2 linked regions of the Homo sapiens genome follow. The protein of the gene in region 1 interacts with the protein of each later gene in a biochemical or structural test. Each region holds a gene or a part of one and is shown on either strand. Other genes may lie near its edges.

The links.
Region 2: the proteins of HIKESHI (region 1) and NUP62 form a complex in vitro, tested with the Homo sapiens proteins (one study listed by IntAct).

What each region holds. Positions count from the first base shown.
Region 1 is NC_000011.10:86,333,199-86,337,016, reverse strand, and holds part of HIKESHI (protein Hikeshi), read right to left. Parts: intron 1,054-3,818; exon of another isoform or gene 84-1,053; intron 1-83. UniProt on the Homo sapiens protein: Acts as a specific nuclear import carrier for HSP70 proteins following heat-shock stress: acts by mediating the nucleoporin-dependent translocation of ATP-bound HSP70 proteins into the nucleus.
Region 2 is NC_000019.10:49,922,910-49,926,727, reverse strand, and holds part of NUP62 (nuclear pore glycoprotein p62), read left to right. Parts: intron 1-3,818. UniProt on the Homo sapiens protein: Essential component of the nuclear pore complex. The N-terminal is probably involved in nucleocytoplasmic transport.

The sequences.
Region 1 (3,818 bases):
GAAAGTATTTCTCCTTCATCTCTAAAGACAGTTTTGCTGAGTATATAATTCCTGGTTGATGGCTTTTTTTTTTTTCCTTTCAGAACTCTGAATATGCCAATCCACTACCGTCTAGAAGACTATGGGGTCTCTGATGAGAAATCAGCTATTAATCTTAGCAAGGATCCTTGCATGTGATGAGTTACTTCTCTTGATGCTTTCAACATTCTCTCTTTACCTTTTGACAGTTTGATTATCGTGTGTCTTGGTGTAGTTTATCCTACTTGGAGTTTCTTGAGCTTCTTAAATGTGGTTAATGTTTTTCCTCAAATTTGAGAAGTTTCTGAGCATTATTTATTTAAATATTGTTTTAGTCTGTTCAGGCTGCTATAACAAAACACCATAAACTGGGTAGCTTATAAACATCGGAAATTTATTTCTCACAGTTCTGGAGGTTGGGAAGTCCAAGATCAAGGAACCGGCAGATTTGGTATCTGGTGAAGGACCATTTTCTGGTTCAGACAGTGCCTTCTCACTGTGTTCTCACGTGGTAGTAGGGCAAGTGATCTTCTTATTACTCTAAGAGTGGTAATCCCATTCATGAGGGCTCTACTCCCATGACCCAGTCACCATCCAAGTCCCTACCTCCCAATACCTTGGGGGTTAGGATTTCAGCATATAAATTTAAAAGACCTCATCATATAAAAAGACACAAACATTCAGACCAGAGCAAATATTCTTTCCAGCCCTCCCGCCTTTCCATATGTTACTCTCATTACACTGTGTCTGCTGTGCATGTTGGTGCACTTGAGGGTGTCTCACAGGTCTCTAAGGGTCTGCTCTTCAAACTGGATATTCCAATTAATTTATCTTCGACTTCACTGATTCTTTCTTCTGTCTACTCAATTCTGCTATCTAAGCCCTTTAGTGAACCATTCAGTTACTGTACTTTTCAGCTATAAACTCTGTTTAGTTCCTTTCTATAATTTCTATATTGATATTCTCTATTTGATGATGTATCATTCTTCTGGTTTCCTTTAGCAATTTGAGCATAATAAAGACAGCTTACTTAAAGTCTTTGCCTGTGCTTCCCTGGGGGAAGTTTCTGTTCGTTTCCTCTGTATAAGAGCCTTACTTTGTTTCTTTGTATGTTTCATAATTTTTTGTAGAAAACTGGACATTTTGAATATTACAATGTGACGACGCTATAAATCAGATGTTTCCACCTTCTAGGGGTTTGTTGTTGCTGTTTATTGTAGTTGTTTCCTCATTTAATGACTTATCTGAACTAATTTTGTAAAGTCTGTTTCTTTGTTATGTGTGGCCAGTGAAGTCTCTGTTCCATTAGTTAGTAGTCTGCTAGTGATTAGAAAGAAATTTCCTTAAACCTCTGCAACCAAAAAATTCTGCCAGTCTTTGCAGATGGGCTCTGCGTGTTGGGACATGCCTTTAGTATTCAGCCAGGCAGTTTATAACTCCACCTTAGTCTTCACTTCCTGCTTGTGCGGAGACTTAAAGTGAGCCAGAAGAGAGAGCTCTGGGTCTTCGCGGGTCTTTCCTGAGCATGCACAAAGCTCTGGGAATGCACGTACCCTTCTAGATTACCAAGAATATGTCAGAGAATTTCAAAGCCCTCATTCCCCAAAGCATCTCATTCCCAACCTTTCTGGTTAGTTTTGGTTTACTCCAACTGTTTTCCTTTGCCTCGGGCAACAGTAGCTAAAACATATGTCTGTAAATACTTTTAACAAACACCCCCAAGGTAGATACTTTTCCATGAAGAGTTCCAAGTTAGGTGACATAAAGGCAGACCTCTTTTTTTTTAAACAGTCTTCTAGCAAGCCACCAGACAGATGAAAACAAGTTAATTACAATTCTTTCTGAATTAGGTCTATCCTGCTCCCTATATCAGTACCAGGAATGGAGTCTGTTATTTTCAAGGCTATCACTGAGCTGAGAAGCAGATGGGACAAGGGTAGCCAAATGCCACAAAGCTCACTGTTCTTACTGAGATTCAGTGTATTTTCTTGATTAAATGTTCCCCTGATTGCTACAAGCTTTTGGTTAGTTACCAGAGTTCCAAAAAAGTTGATTCTGGGTCAGACACAGTTGCTCATATCCTGTAATCCCAACACTTTCAGAGGCTGAGGCAGGAGGACTGCTTGAGCCCAGAAGTTTGAGACCAGCCTGGGCAACATGGGGAGACCCCATCTCTACAAAAGTTAGCCAGGCGAGGTGGTGCATGCTTGTGGTCCTAGCTACTTGGGAGGTGGAGGTGGGAGGATCGCTTAGGCCTAGGAGATCGAGACTACAGTGAGCTGTGATCTTCTGACAGTGTTGTTGTTGCTTTTATGGAAGACTGGATTTTCTGGAGCTCCTTACTCTACCGTTTGATTTCTTTTAAATCTAGAATTATGCTAAAATCCAGAAAACATATCATTATCAAAGCATATCATCAAATAGATGCAAAAATAATAAATTATAAATCATAATACAAAGAAGAGCAAGCAAAATATATGACCTAGTCTTAATATAAAAAACAAATGTAAATTAGATCAAGTTCTTTAAAACACTGTTAACAGTAAATGCAGCAGCTAATTTTTTTTAAGACTCTTTCTCAAAGCATCCCTCCTCCATGTAAATCAAGAGCCTAACACAAAACACAACTCAGAGGAAAAATTCCTACAGGGAGCTAGTTCTTTATTCTCAGTATACAAGGAAAAGCAGTCACCATCATTTGTTATTTGCATCTAATGGAAACTTTACACACACACACACACACACACACACACACACACACATATTTTACAAAGAATGTTGAGAAGAATCAGGAAATAGTGGAAAACAACTTTATTAGATTTTTTCTAAGTATTTAAGTACAGCAAATCCAGATAGTCATTCCACATTTTCCTTGTTTTTAAGATATAGCTGAAATGGGCTATGTCCTGTGAATACAACTGCCCATCAACCATCATGGATAAACATGGAACACATGCGTCTTATGGAACACATCCATTTTATAAATTTCATAAGTCAGATATCTATTAATAAAGTTATAGCTTATGGTTGTATCTTGTTCTTTTTTTGGCATCTACATTGCCATAATATAATACCTGAAAGCTTGAAGTTTTGAAACCTTTAACGGCTCATAATTTGTTGAAGGATGGCTATCCTCTGATCTACATTTTGCAAAATATTTTCATTTTTAGATTTATAACCATTATTTAGAATGATCAAGCCAATTATTTTTTTTTTCATTCCTATACCTATTTCCTTCCAATCACTTCTCTATACACCCCTGCTTTCAGCATTTGTCTATTTATAAAACCATATCCAGTCTATTTTGGAACACAAATATAAGAGATAAAAGAATAGCAGAACACATCCTTTACTACTTGTCCATGACAAAATATTATGTGAGAAATTCCTTCTTCTTAAATGACTGAGTAGAATACCATATTTCTTTTCTTTTTTTTTTTTGTTTGTTTGTTGTTGTTGTTGTTGAGACAGAGTCTCACTCTGTTGCCCAGGCTGGAGTGCGGTAGGACGATCTTGGCTCACTGCAACCTCCGCCTCCTGGGTTCAAGCAATTCTCATGCCTCAGCCTCCCGAGTAGCTGGGATTACAGGCCTGTGCAACCACACCGGCTAATTTTCAAATTTTTAGTGCAGACGGGGTTTCACCATGTTGGCCAGGCCAATCTGGAACTCTTGACCTCAAGTGATCCACCCATCTCGGCCTCCCAAAGTGCTGGGATTACAGACATGAGCCACCGCACCCGGCCTCATATTTTCTCTTGATCCTTAAAAATACATTGTTCAATCATCAAATTTTTAGTT
Region 2 (3,818 bases), on another chromosome or scaffold:
GTGTTCTCATTCCATTGCTGTATAGATTTTTGAACAAAAGCAGATGGAATTAAGGGTAGACTGTTGGGCAGACTGCCAGTGGTAAGGACGCACAGACGTGCCCTATCTCCCCCGCCCCGCCGGTAGAATCTTTTCCTACGAAGATCTTCTAGATTGTACATGGGGACTGGGTTTGGTTTGGTTTGGTTTGGTTTTTTTGAGACAGAGTCTTGCTGTGTCGCCCAGGCTGGAGTGCAGTGGCATGATCTTGGCTCACTTCAACCTCCACTTCCCAGATTCAAGCAATTCTCCTGCCTCAGCCTTCCAAGTAGCTGGGATTACAGGCGCCCACCACCACGCCTGGCTAATTTTTGTATTTTTAGTAGAGACGGGGTTTTGCCATGTTGGCCAGGCTGGTCTTGAACTCCTGACTTCAGGTGATCCACCCACCTCGGCCTCCCAAAATGCTGGGATTTACAGGCATGAGCCACCACACCCAGTCTTAAGCAAGACCTAGCTTTTTTTTTTTTTTTTTTTTTTGAGACAGAGTCTCGCTCTGTTGCCCAGGCTGGAGTGCAGTGGCACCGTCACAGCTCACTGCAACCACCGCCTCCCAGGTTCAAGCCATTCTCCTGCTTCAGGCTCCAGAGTAGCTGGGATTACAGACATGCACCATCATGCCTGGCTAATTTTTATATTTTTAGTAGATACAGGGTTTCACCATGTTGGTCAGGCTGGTCTCGAACTCATGACCTCGTGATCTGCCTGCCTCAGCCTCCCAAAGTGCTGGGATTACAGGTGTGAGCCACCGTACCCAAGGGGGTTATTTTTTAAATAAAATTTTTTATTTTGGAATAATTGTAGATTGACTCAACAGAAAAGTTGCAAAGATAATACGGAGAATTTCTGTATGCCCCTCACTTGGTTTTTTCCATTAACATTTTACATTACTTTGCCACATTTGTCACAACCAAGGCAACATCAGTATGTTACCATTGACCAAATGCCATTCTTGATTCTGACCACACTTGATGCTGATTTTGGTAGTTGTTACTTAATGCCCTTTCTGCTCCTTCCGGATGCCTTCAGGATGCCACGTTATATTTAGGCATCATGGCTCCGCAGCCTCCTCTGGCCTGTGACTGGTTTTAGACTTTCCTTGTCCTTCATGACCTTGACAGTTTGGAAAAATGCTGGTTGGGTATTTTATGGAATGTGCTTCCATTTGGTTTTGTCTCAGACTGGGATTGCGGGATATTGAGAGGATGGCCAGGTAGGATGCTATTTTTTTTTTTTTTTGGCTTTTTTTAGTAGAGATGGGGGGGAGGGTCTTACTATGTTGCCCAGGCTGGTCTTGAATTCCTGATTCCTGGGCTCAAACGATCCTCCTGCCTCACCCTCCCAAAGTGTTAGGATTACAAGCCTGAGCCACTGTGCCCGGCCTGGGTTTTTTGTTTTGTTTTGTTTTTTAATTTTTTTGGTTTTTTGAGACGGAGTTTCACTCTTGTTGCCCAGGCTGGAGTGCAATGGTGCCATCTCGGCTCACCGCAACCTCTGCCTCCTGGGTTCAAGAGATTCTCCTGCCTCAGCCTCCCGAGTAGCTAGGATTACAGGCATGTGTCACCACACATGGCTAATTTTGTATTTTTAGTAGAGACGGGGTTTCTCCATGTTGGTCAGGCTGGTCTCGAACTCCCGAACTCAGGCGATCCACCCGCCTCAGCCTCCCAAAGTGCTGGTATTACAGGCGTGAACCACCGCGCCTGGCCCGGTGTGGGTAATTTTTAATAGCTTGGTCAGTAGGAGAATTGCATTGCTGGCTATGTGCGGTTTATGCTGGCTGCAGAGGTGTCTGGGCAGGGACTCTGCTTCCCCTCCCCACCGTTTTGCCGCCTTTTCTCTCTAGCTATTGGGTCCCACCCACTTCAGCCCAGCCAGACTTAGCAGCTGGACTCAGGGTGAGTGGGTGCCAGTTGGCACCCTTAGCTCTCCAGCCCCTCCCAGCCTGTTCTAGTTCATAGCCGGTCATCAGTGGTTGCCTGCGACCCTTCTCCCCAGATCTTCGAACCCTGAGTCCCCTCGTGTGCACATTCCTGACCCAGGCCTGTGGCCCCTTCAGGACTCATGTCCTGGCCTCCCCCAGCCTCGAGCTCCCCTTCAACTCCTGAGCTGGGGCTTGAAGCAAGGGTGGGGCTACTGGGGACTCTTTTTCGGTGCGGAGGGGCCTGGCTTGGGGAGTGAGGCGGTGGTTGCAGGCAGGTTGCATCAGCCCTGGCTGTTTGACGGGGACGGGGAGTTCGGGGATTCTCTGGGGACCCCAGCACACCTGGCAACCGCTCCCGGTTAGCAGAGCCTTGGATAAGGGAGAACCCCCGCACAGCAAGAGTAGGGGTGGTGTGGAGAGGGAGGGAGATCAGCCACCCGTGCAGGACCCTGAGAATCTGAGGCTCGGTGCCAAGAAGGGGCCTCAGATCACAGAGGCTTGTTAGCAGGAGTCAAGACTGAGGTCCCGAGAGGTAAGGGGGGTTGTGAAAATCACAGTGCCAGTTAGATGGGACCTCAGCCTCCACCATGCTGCACAGCTTCCAGGGCCCCGAGGCCCATGGTGTAGTCTCTGGGAGGTCTCCAAGCCCTGACCCTCACCTCAGGCCTGCTGCTGCTCACAGTTGCCAGACGCTATCGATTCCTGCCTGCACCTGCACCGTGCCATCGCCCTGCTATTGCCGCAACTCCTCACTGCTTTCCCAATCACGGTGGCCTCCTGGCATGATGGAAAAGGCTCCGAGTTTTGCATCAGACAGACCGGGGTTCTGGTCCTGAGCCCAGCACTCAGTTGTAGACTGGAGTGCAGGCAGGGCCCTCATCTGCCGAGCCTCGGCTGCCTTCCGCAGCGTGGGTCAGAGCATGGGCCCTAGAGCCAGCCTGCTGGGTTCACACCCCAACTCCACCACTTCTGTGACCCTCAGCAAGTGGCATCCTCTTTCTATGACTCAGTTTCCCCTCCGTAAAATGGGGATGAGATGGTCCATTGCAGACGGTGGTTTTGAGGATTAAATGTGTAAATGTGCGTGAAATACCTAGAGTGGGGCCTGGCATAGGGAAATGCCCTGTGAGCAGTAGTTCCTGCTCTGGGGCCTGGTGTGGGAGCGCTGTGGAGATGGCATCAGTGAAGCCGGCGGCTGCCAGAGCCCGGGTCTGTGTGTGATTCTCTCTGTTCTCGCCACGCCTGCTTCTGCTTTCAGATCCGCCGTGTGCAGATGTCTGCCTACGTGACTGCTCCCCCGAACGCTTCGAGGGCAAAGTCAGGGCCCTCCTCATTCCCAGAAACGTTCCCCACAACCCCCCGCCCTGTGCTGCTATTTCCGTAGGCATCAATACATTTTCTAATGAGTTGCTCAGCACAGAGGCCAGCGAATGTGATACTGAGGTCCCTGAGAGGAGCCAGGGAGGGTAACTGGGTCACGCAGGCCAGGGGTGCCGGGGTTGAAGGTGGGAGTCCTGGCAAACAAGGGCAGGTAGGCCAAGGCCAGCTCAGTTGGGGAGAGGATGACGCGGGGGCTGGGAGACAGCACAGGCTGCCACGTGGCCCACAGTCCTCCAGAGCCCCTTCCCTCCCTTGTGCCTGCCCTTGTCCCTTCAGTAGAAGCAGTCACAGCTCTTATGCAAAAAAAAAGGGACACAGCAAACTGATAACAACTGACACCAGTGTCCTAGAGCCCAGGATGCCATCACTCACCGCTTAGTGGTCTGGGACAAGATACTGTACCCCCCGACCTGTGGTCACCTCATCAGTAAAATGGGCACAATCATAGAACTACCTTGGGGCAGTGTGGAGGGGC